Regions from separate parts of the Homo sapiens genome. Here region 1 is linked to region 2. The links come from fine-mapping of genetic effects on gene expression. A gene starts in region 2. The other region holds a variant in brackets. All regions are shown on one strand. Distances are from middle to middle.

Region 1 (5,388 bases), 52 kb before region 2:
ATAATGTAGAGTGTGGTGACATTGAAAGGAAGTGTTGAATAGTGTCTCTTTTAAGTAGTAATAACATCAGGAAACTCAATCTGGTCATGAAAATGGAAAAAAAAAGTATCGTGACACATTCTCTCTAAGGAAATGGCAGCTATTAGAAATGGAATGTGTTACATTTATGAGAAAGGGTCTTGTCTGAGAAGGTATACTGCTTCAGCACACACAGCAACAAATATTGTCATATATGAAGTATGATGCAGATGAAATAGCCCACGCTCCCATTTTATACCACGTTGTTCAGACATTTATTTATATACTGTAAAAATTCTGCATTCTACAATTAAATGACTTTGTAGAAGGCTTAGAGCAGACATACAAATCAATTAAGGGATTGCAAACATGCTGGAGAAATGTAAACATATTTTTTATATGTCAACTTAGGCTTTTTATATATTTAGTGAAAAGACCCACATAGAACTTGAAATAAGCTACAGCAACAATGATTTAGGCTAGATAGAAGAAAGGATGCCTGGGGGTGGTGCTGTAAAATTGCCTCTGAAAGTCATTGGTTGGGACAGTTTCATTATGATCATTTGAGTACAAGGATATAAATTAGAAAAGCTGTTTTCTAGCCCTATTTTTAAAGAAACATCAGATTAAAATTAATATAATTATTAGCATATGGATTGATTTTCTTGACATAAACATCAAATATAATAAAATAGTCATAAAGCAAGTTACTACTGTAAAGTGTTTATTGAAGGCATACTGATTTGATTTTTTTTTAAAGTTAGGATTTTTTTCCCCACATAATTAACATTGGTGACAGTTTTACCTTTTTTTTTTTTTTTTTTTAAATTAGAGGAACTGCAAATTTCTGTCTGCAAAGCACCCTTCTACTGGACATGTTCATACTTCATTATGCATAATTATTATGGGAGGGCAGGATGATGGGATAAAAAGGTATCTGAATTATGAATCAGGGCACTGTGGTTCTGCTGTCCTCTCTTCTATTAGCTAGAGGTGTGACCTTGGACAGGTCACTTTTAAATCCCATTTCTCAGCTTCTTGTAGACAACCTCAAGCCATTGTTAGAGGAGACCATCTCTTATGTTCTTTCCTTCTCTGAAATTCCATTTGGAGATTTTAATTAAATCATAATTTAGATAAGTCAGTATTTTATCTTCCACATATATAAAAAGTAGATTCTTTTTCTCATATTTAAGAAGTTTTAACACAAATTGTCAGTGAATAGTTAAAATTTATCAATATAAGTTATTCTAGCATAAAATTTGAGAATAGCTAATATAGCAGATGGTCACCTTGTACTATATAAAAACTTATAATGAAAACAGTTACTTCATTTCTTATGATCCAACTGTCAAAATAGCTCTCCATCTTTCACTTAGTATATTTTGTATTCATCTAATAGATTTGAAAATGTACATGAATATTTCTTCCCTTTATGTACCATTTTATTTCTATAAAATGATGAATTTTATTATAAATATTCAGAAATATAACAGTATCTTATGCATTATAAGTCCACACTTTTTCGGTCATTACTAAACTTCTTTTCTAATATATTGTACATTTAAACATTTAAGATTACCTTGAAGAGACTACAGTCAGGTGGAAATGTAATTTTACGATTACATAAGTAAGGACACAAACAGTTTCCATATGACTGGAGTGATTTCTGGCTGCCTTAAAAGAGTTATAATGAGTGTCAGTGTCATTGAGATTGACTTCAGTTATTCAAAATATTACACAAAATGTGACCGGAGCAAGCAGTGAATCCAGGAAAATTAATATAAACTAAATTCGATTCCGACATTTAAATTTCCAAAACTCAGATTAAATACTATTTAGGACAGAAATAATTCCTGAAATTTCACGTGTTTACTTTTTTTTTTTAAATGAACCTTTTAAGCTGTACAGGAGAAGCTTGACATATGATTGAAACTGGCTTGGGTAAAATAATAAGAAATTCAATCTTCGTAGTTTTAAATGAGACACAAAATACTCTTTGGAGACTGATTATTAAGCACAAGTCACTCGGGTGCTTTCTACTCTCCCTGTTGGCAAAGGAAGGTAGGGGAGGAATTCATTTACACCTCACACTGATGTGTGAGAAAATGTATTTGTTTCACGTTATGCCAAGAAATAGGAAAACTGATCCGACAGCTCAATTAATAAATAAGTTAAACGTAAAAAGGGATAAAAATAAAATCTTACTTTATGGAGGAAAAGAGTTAAATCTATATGGAGCCTGTTTTAGAACTGACAGTTTGCTAAAACGAATTGACTCAGAATTTTCTACTTATCAAACATTTTCCACTTCTGATTTTATGGCTTTGCTCTAAAACCTAGGAAGTCACCAACTCCGTGCAAGATGCTAACATTTATCTCAATCTTTCTGCCTCTTCAAAGACCGCCTCAAAGCATAAAGATAGTCCATAGCGTCTTACCTAGACAAC[G/A]AGGAGCTGAAACGCCAAGGCATGACACTGCTCAACACTCAGGCTAGGAAAGAAGTCCGTCCCCGTTAGTTTCTCCAAAATCTAAGTTCCCATTTCGTGGTTGAGATCATGGCTCTATTCTGAGCAGTTTCACGCAGTGTGTGAGTCTAACAAAAACACCCTCTGCAGCTGGAGGGAGCCTTAGCTAAGGCAGGATCCTGTCAAGGCATTCCTAGTGACTTCTGTCTACTAAATTCAGACTGAGGTTTTGCAAAAGGGGCCTCCACAACCAGGCCCAGATTGCCTGGAAAGTATTTCCTGCCTCTGAGGAGTGTGCATGCTAGAAAGGCTGTACGAAGAGAGGGGAGGAGGGGAGAGCCCAGCCGCCTGGGCGTTTTAGGAGTTCTGATTTTACACAGAACTCAAGTGAGTTTTGTCAAAGCTCTTGAGGTGATTAGCTGTAGAGTCATAAAGTCCTAGAGCTTTTTCTATCCCACACTGCTTATGAAAAAAGAAAGAAAGAAAGAAAGAAAACGTAGTTTTCTCTCTATCCACAACCTTTCCACTATATTAAATGTATATGCACAGCTTAATCAAAATGCCTGTGCTTGCTCTCATTTCAAAAGATCTTTTAAGAGAGCAAGATGAATTTAGCCTTAATACCATAATTCTTCTAAATGGCAAAACCTTTTTTGAACATGACTTAAAATTGGAAATGCTGCAGCTTTTCATTCTGTCCCTGAGACCATCTGTAAGTAAAATCCCAAGCATCCAGTTAATAGAACGATTTCTTCCAGATCTCTCTGATCACAAGAATCCTTCACAGAATTAAAATAGTTCGTGTTATGGCAAATGCAGCAGCGCATTACCTCTAGTCAGAATCCTCCAGTTACAAAAATCCAGTGCTGGAGCAGAAGACAGGCTCCATCTTGATCGTATTAGAGTCTTGCTGACATTAAACACTTACAACTGCTTCCATCTAGCATGGCAGCGTTCCTGAATCACATCTCTAAAGCCGCTCATGGTATCTGCATCCTTCGTCCGTCACAAATTTTGTGAACTATCATCTGTTTATCTTTTCTGCTTTCTTGTGCCTCCCTTGAATGACTTCCTCCTAGCTGCTCCAGGTTGGGAATTTGGACTACCATTTGGTTTTGATTAAAACCAGACAGGCAACTCTGGAGAATTTAGGGAATAAGCTAATGGAAACTGCAAGTATGGCTTTAATTAGTGCATCAATTAATAATAGATGTTAGCTCGTCTTATAATAAGATATCACAAATACAAACACAGAGGAAGCTGAAGTCGTTTCAGGAAAAAAGTTACACCAATTTTCCTTCCTTTATGACCCAGAATCCTCTTTAGAGAATGTGGAAGGAAAGAAGAGGGAGGTGGTTTTGGGACATCCAGGCTGTGGAGAGGCCAGTAGAGCAGCTTCATTGTTTATACCAGGGAAGCAGGAAACAGCATCTCTGACTTTAATTATCTTGCTTGGTGGAAATGGCTCAGTCATGTCTCCCTTCTACTTTATTTACAATCAATGGATTTCGCTGCTATTTATGACTCAAGCATTTTTTTGGGGGGGGACTGATGATCAGATTAATTATTAGGTCTATCTGCTTCTTGCAAATTTCTAGAAGCTTTCAATAATAGGAAGTGCAAGAATAATTCCAGTTGGATGTGATAAAATGAGTAACATATAAAGAGGTAAAAGACATCTTAAACTTGTTGGCCCTAAGATCTATCCTGTTCTTCTCTGAAATTGTAAGTAGTTTTCATTGTTCACTGTTATTCTCCATCCCTGTATATCACAAGGGCTATCTTGTAGTACTTTTTGATAATATTGGGTAGGTGATAACTCAAAGATGCACAAGGTTCTAACTACTATTTTTTTCCTTATTAGGTAGCTAAAATCTCTCAAAGTTAATGCAAATCATGAACCATATTAGACCCATGTTAGATGGCAAGAATGACTTATACTGTGCATGAGTTTGAAGATGAGAAGTAGTCAAATAAAAACGTTTGGTCAGAAGCAGCTTTAAAAGTTTAGATCAAAGTCTTATTGACTAAAAACATGAGCATTTAGGTTTCTTTAATTTAATCTTCAACCATAGGCCAAGAAAGAAGTCTGTTCTTCCATAAATTCTTTAAAAAGTATTTATATTTATATTCAAAGTGTTTCTACTGACAGTATGCCTATTTAATCTTTCCAACAATTTTGCGTGTATTCATATGTTTTATTTTACAAATAAAGTATTGAGAAGCAATTTTCTCACAGTCAAATGATACAAAGTGCCCAGGTCCACACTGGAACTCAGATATTCTAGCTCCAAGCTTTGTGCTTTAATTTTTTCTCCATAAACTGCCTTCCTTGACTTCCACTTAATTTCTTTATTAAATTGGGAAGACTTCTTAAACTCTAATAGTTTCTCTTTAAAAATAGAGACAATTTCACATAACTTATAGATTGGAAAGCAGGATGAAATTTATATGCAGAAATATTTGTGTATTTATGTTTATTTCCCTAAGAAAAACACTGGAGAAGAAAGGAATGAGAACTGATATTATGTCTTTCCTAATATAACTTGATATCTCTATCTCTGTCACTGCCTTTAGTACTGATATACAGTGGTTACTCAATATTATATCAGCATCATGCTAATTCTTAGCTACATTTTATTCATGAATACTGTACCCCGCGCCATATACTTTAGTTTTGTTTCTATTTCTATTGGCTTGGGAAAACAAGAAAACTCTGTTCACAAATGCCTTTTAGATATCTAGAAACTCTTGTTAGTAAGTTTCTCATAAACATACCCTTTTCTACACAAAAAATACATTATGTTTTCTTCTATTAATAGGATTACTTCCCAAATCTTTAATTACTTATATTTATTTTTCATTGTTGAGTTGCTTGATTCCAAACAAATCTCAGATCTTA
Region 2 (5,388 bases):
TAAACTAGACTCCCACTTTGTACACTGCACACCACCAGGAAGAGGTACCTGCCAAATGCCAACTCATCATGGAAACGTTTATGATATCTGGGGGGAGAATTGCTTGCCAGAGTGACAGATGCTGAAAGTTTGCTTTTCTCCCTCCATAGGAAAGGAAAGCAAGAGAGAAGGGGAATCATGAATTTGTTTTGACTTCCTCTTTCTGGGGTTGGCCTTATAGCTGCAAAGCATTCTTGATCATTAAGGAAAAAGCTGGGAGAAGACCCTTGGCCCTGCTCTCTGATAGGAACTAGGAAGAAGAGAAAGTAGCTGCAGAACAGTAACAGGAGGGGCATAGCAAGGTTAGGCCAAGAGAGCCTGACTGGACTCTCTTTTCTATTCTTCATATCTCCCAATCCCCACCACAAGCAGCCTTCAGCCACAGCTTGGTCCACAAAGCATTTTGACATTCCCAACAGCCCCTGAGAGATGGCAAGAAGATTGAGATTTCCAAAGGAAAACTATTACTCTTCATATTTGTTTAAAATCAAACTTTGACCTGTGTTTTCATGAATCTTATTTGATAAATATAGTACTGTTGAGAAATTTTCTTCCTTAGATAACACACTTACTAGAATGTAAAACTGTCCACTGGGTCACGCTGAATATTACAAGGAAATTAATTATAGAATTTCCCACCCACATATATCTCCTTCTAGGATAAAGTTATTTTTAAAAATCAAGAGAAATTTAAGACACGATTATAAAAAAGACAGATTACCCCAGACATTTGGCATGTTAGAAGACACAGATAGATTTTATTTTAAGTATAGCTCCCTTGTTCAATGTTATGGATAAGATATAGCTAAAACATGAATAGTGTGTAAATATGAATGTGTAAATATTCAGAGAATGAGGCAGAGATTTGAAATAATAAATAAGGAAAATATTGAGCCCTATTGGAAATTACTTGGAGTTACTCACAAATTACATGCCACCTCTTTTTTAAAGACTACCATTATATGATAAAATAAAATTTGGGTTGAATAAATGAAGTTGGAGTCTCCTTATCTTCAACAGGAAGCTGGCTCATATACTTGAGAGATGCTTTTTGAATATTTGACTTTCACTTTTTGCCAGAATGAACATTTGGGGAATATATCTGGCTAGACCTGAATAATACCCCCCAATCCCCAAGAAACACAGGAAGAAAGAGAGAGAGAGACAAAACTGAGAAAGAAGGGTGTCTAGGCTCTTAAAATTATCCTAGACATTGACTAAGTCCTAGACTCAAGAACTATTATAACCTAGGAAAAGTCCATCTCTAGAGTTAACATTTTATAATTTCTCACGATAATTAATAAAACTCTACTGTGTTTTTTAAATGAATCCATTAATAAAAAATATATCCTGTGTAATAGCCTAAGTTTGGGGATTCAGTTAGAAAAAAGGTTAGAGTTCCCTGAACTTATAGTACTTATTTCTCCAAATCCTCTGGACGTGTGTAAGGTAAGATTTATTTGTTCCATAGCCATTCACTCAACAGAGATTTCTTGAACACCTGCTATGTGTCTGCTGATTGCTGGGCTCATACTAGTCGGCAACACCGACATGATTTCTGCCTTCAGCCTTCATAATCAGATACTCATACAATCACATAGTTGGACACTATTTAAAAAAAAATGCTGGAAAGAGTTTAAGGCAGGGGTGGGTATTAAGCCCTTCCTGAGGAAATGGGACTCGGAGGAGGAGGATAAATTAACGATATTAAGAGTGAGGACGGGCGTGGATATGCTAGCCAGAGGGGACCTGTATGGACAAAAGGCCAGAGAAACTGATTTGGAAAATTAAGGTCCTCCCCCGCCCCTGCTCCCCACCCCCGACCCCGCCCAAACTTCGAGGTCCTCAGAATGCTGGAGCACAGAACACTACTTCTTACAGAATGGTTTCTGTATTTTGACTTTTCCCCAAAGACATGCTCTACAAGGAGGTGTCTCTTGGCTATAAACACTGCAGACAAGTTTTTGCTTGTGCATCTTGTCCAGCGCGTTTTGCTTGATTTTTAAATCTAGATGCATTTAGGCGGGCGTACACGTTCGGATTTGTCACAGGCCACCTAACTCTATTGGTCTCACACACGTGTGCCACCTGTCTGACCCCTGGGAAACAGAGTTTGCAAGGTTTTCCCGTTGACTACTCGACTTTAGCACCAAAGAGAAGCAGGAGTGCAGAAGACAGGGCAAAATCGCCAACCCGGCGCAAGCAGCGCAAGCGCAGTGGGCGCTGGGGAGCGCGGAGGAAAAGGCGGGACGCCGCATGGTGGCCAGTCACTGCGCATGAGCGGCCCGCGTTGCCAAGACAGCTGGGAAGGCGTCTCCCGGAAGACGACCTCCGCAGAGCTGATGGCATTGAGATCCATTCCCGGAGGGGTCAGCTCCTGACGGGTTCCTGAGCCAGTCTTAACCTGGGCAAAGGAGATGAGGAGCCGAGCCTGATGCATTGTGATGGCCATCTGCCCAGAATTGGCCCAAACGGACAAAAGTGCTCTTGCAAACCTTTCTGATGAGACTGAGACTTTGAAGAACTCTACTGATGAGGTACAGACTTCCAGCTCATTCAGCTCCTCTGGAGGACGGCAGTCCTCGCCCCTGACCTCTGGGAGCAAACTGGAGAGGGAAAAGCAGACTCCAAGCTTGGAACAAGGAGACACACAATCTGAGCTTTTGGACTATAAAAATTATGAAAAGAAGTTGAGTAAAAAATGGATCAACTACCTCAAGCTCAAAGACTCTAACTTTGAACGGCACCAACCAGACACCAAACTTCCAACAGAAATCACTCGGGTATCAGATGAAGAATTGAATGCCCTGCAGTCTTATTGCACCATGAAGATAAATTTGATTCATCGTAGAGGGGATTCTAAGAAGAAGACGAGCAGCAGACATAAAAAGCTGCATCTTGGATTGGATGTAGAGGCTTCAGAGAGAGATGCCTTTAGTTGTACTGTACCCGATGAACTTTTGAACAGAATCTACTTTAAAAACATGAGGACAACGCCAAAACAGGAGGCAGCAGCTAAGCAACACATATCTTATCAGTGTCCCTATTGTAACAGGAAAAGAGCGGAGCTGGCCCTGTCTGCCTTTCTGAAACAAAAGAAGACTTTACTGGAGTCATTTCTACTCCAAGAGAGAATAGATGAACATCTTCATACCAAAGACTTTCTCACCCGTATTGGAGAAGCACATCAAGACTTTCCCAGGCTTTCAGATGACCCCAGAATAATCTGGAAAAGACTGACTGAGAAAAGTCATATCAGATACTCTGGTTTTGAAAGATCAGAGACAGAGCAGAAGTTGCAGCGAGATGGAAATAGTGCTTGTCATTTACCATTTTCTCTGCCATTTCTCAAGCGACTTACTCTAATCAAACCAGAGCTGGTGATTGTTAATGATAATGTGTAATGTGGATAGATGTCTTTGTTGTGTATTTGAGTAATTACCATAATTTCTACAGGCACTTGGGAAACTAACTTAAGACTTTACTATGCTTCCTTCACAGATTTGAGGACTAAGAACTTTCACTTTTTTTTTCCTATTATAGAAGGCACTGTTGTAGTTGGAATAGTTATAAAAACTTTTACAAAATTCCAAGAGAACTATGTTGGTAGTTTGGGCCAGGATGTTGATGGTACAGAAGCAAAGTAGTATGGGGATGTAAGAGAAACTTAAAAAGTAATAACTGTCTTTGGCGATCAAATGGCTATGGGGAATTAATAAATAGTAGATGTTTGAAATGTTATTAAGGCTCTGACTTGTGCGCCCGGATGAATGATCATTAATTTCATTAAGACAGGAACACCAGAAGAGGACTATGTTTGATGGAACTGTTGAAGAGTATGATTATTTGGACATATAAGGTGCATTTGGGACATACACATTGACAGTTTGAAGAAACATTTGATTATTTGTTTTTGCGCTTCAGAGGAAAGGTATAGCCTAGAGGTGCAAAATAAATTGGGGTAGGACTGGGGGAAGGGTGGGGATCAATGGCATATAGCTGGAAGTTGAAGCCGTAGATTGTCAAGCGTTTTTGGAAATGAATAAGAAGAGAAGCAGGGTTGATACAAACTCTTGAGAAATGCCAATTAATGGCTAAGTAGAGAAAAATAAACCTGCAGAAAAGATTGTGAAAAAAGTTATCAAGTGGATCAAGGAAATCAGGAATGTATAGTGTCATAGATGCTAAGGAATGAATATTTAAAGAAGGATAGTTGTCTAACCACATCAATCAACAGAGAAGCCATGTAAAGATGATTTAGTCATGTATTGGGCACTGCTGACCTTAGCAAAAGCCATTTCACTTATACAAATGGGGCAGACAAAATAGATTGAGGAAAAATGTAAGTAAATAATGAATGGATATAGGGTACTCCTTGAAATATTTAGCTGTAAGGGGAAGAAGAAGTAAAGCTGGGGTTAGGTGTTGAGTTTTGAGAGAAGAACGCTTAAACAAATTATCTAGATAGCCATTTTGGTCGTGAAGATTTTATGAACCTTCTGTTGTTCATCCAAATTTATGTAATGAGGAAACAGTATTATTCCACAAGGAATACCATGGCATTTTGAAAACACATTTATGGAGAAAAATGTTAGATGGCATTCTGAGAAGCCATTTATTATCTATTTCCTCTATAAAAATATAAAACCATGGAATTAGTGGCATTACCTGGAGATCACTTTTCTACATGTCCAACACCTGAATTATCTCAGTGAAAAAGAAATTTGTTTGCAAAAATCAGCACAGAAGAGTTTTAGTATTGTACTTCAGTATTACTCTTTGCGTTAAGACCTTCATTTATGTATAAAGATACTATTTTTTTCCCCCATAAAATTTAGCATATTTCCCCTTAGTAAGTCATTCTAAATGGAAAATAACCATTACCATTTTCATAATAACCTTTTATTTGAAATCCATATTATGTCATGCTTTATCTTTGACATCTCAATATATTCATGTTTTACATAATCAAAATTCTGAATAATTTTCCCTTTAGAATTCCCCCATTAAAGGGCATGCTCCACCCTTTTAGTCAACCAAGCTAGAAATCTGAGTCATCTTTTGTTCTTCCTTTTTATTTTTCAACTCAACCCCAAGCTATTTTTCAGCAAGACTTTCAGCATACAGTTCCCAAATGTCAGCATACAGTTCTCAGAATTACTATTTTTTAAATTTGTTACTTATTTATTATTGAGACAGGGTCTGGCTCTATCACCCAGGCTGGAATGCAGTGGTGCAATTACTGCTTACTGCAGCCTCAACCTCTAGGATTCAGGTGATCCTCTCACCTCAGCCTCCCCAGCAGCTGGGACTACAGGTGCGTGCCGCCACGCCTGGCTAAATTTCTTT

Direction of the effects. Positions count from the first base shown, and alleles are read on the strand shown. Sizes are in standard deviations (SD) of each study's normalised expression.
With allele A in place of G in region 1, the expression in left ventricle of the gene that starts at base 2,361 in region 2 is higher (moderate effect, 0.49 SD a copy in GTEx).

The links.
Region 1: its variant is fine-mapped to the expression of C8orf48 in left ventricle (GTEx, PIP above 0.99).

The regions. Positions count from the first base shown.
Region 1 is chr8:13,512,143-13,517,530 of GRCh38, forward strand. DLC1 (DLC1 Rho GTPase activating protein) reads right to left here and starts at 2,709. Exons shown (of 18, transcript NM_182643.3): 1 at 2,460-2,709. The variant G/A (reference allele first, on the strand shown) is at 2,469.
Region 2 is chr8:13,564,509-13,569,896 of GRCh38, forward strand. C8orf48 (chromosome 8 open reading frame 48) reads left to right here and starts at 2,361. Exons shown (of 1, transcript NM_001007090.3): 1 at 2,361-3,780. The coding sequence starts at 2,484. The coding sequence ends at 3,443. It also overlaps a transcript of DLC1 not described here.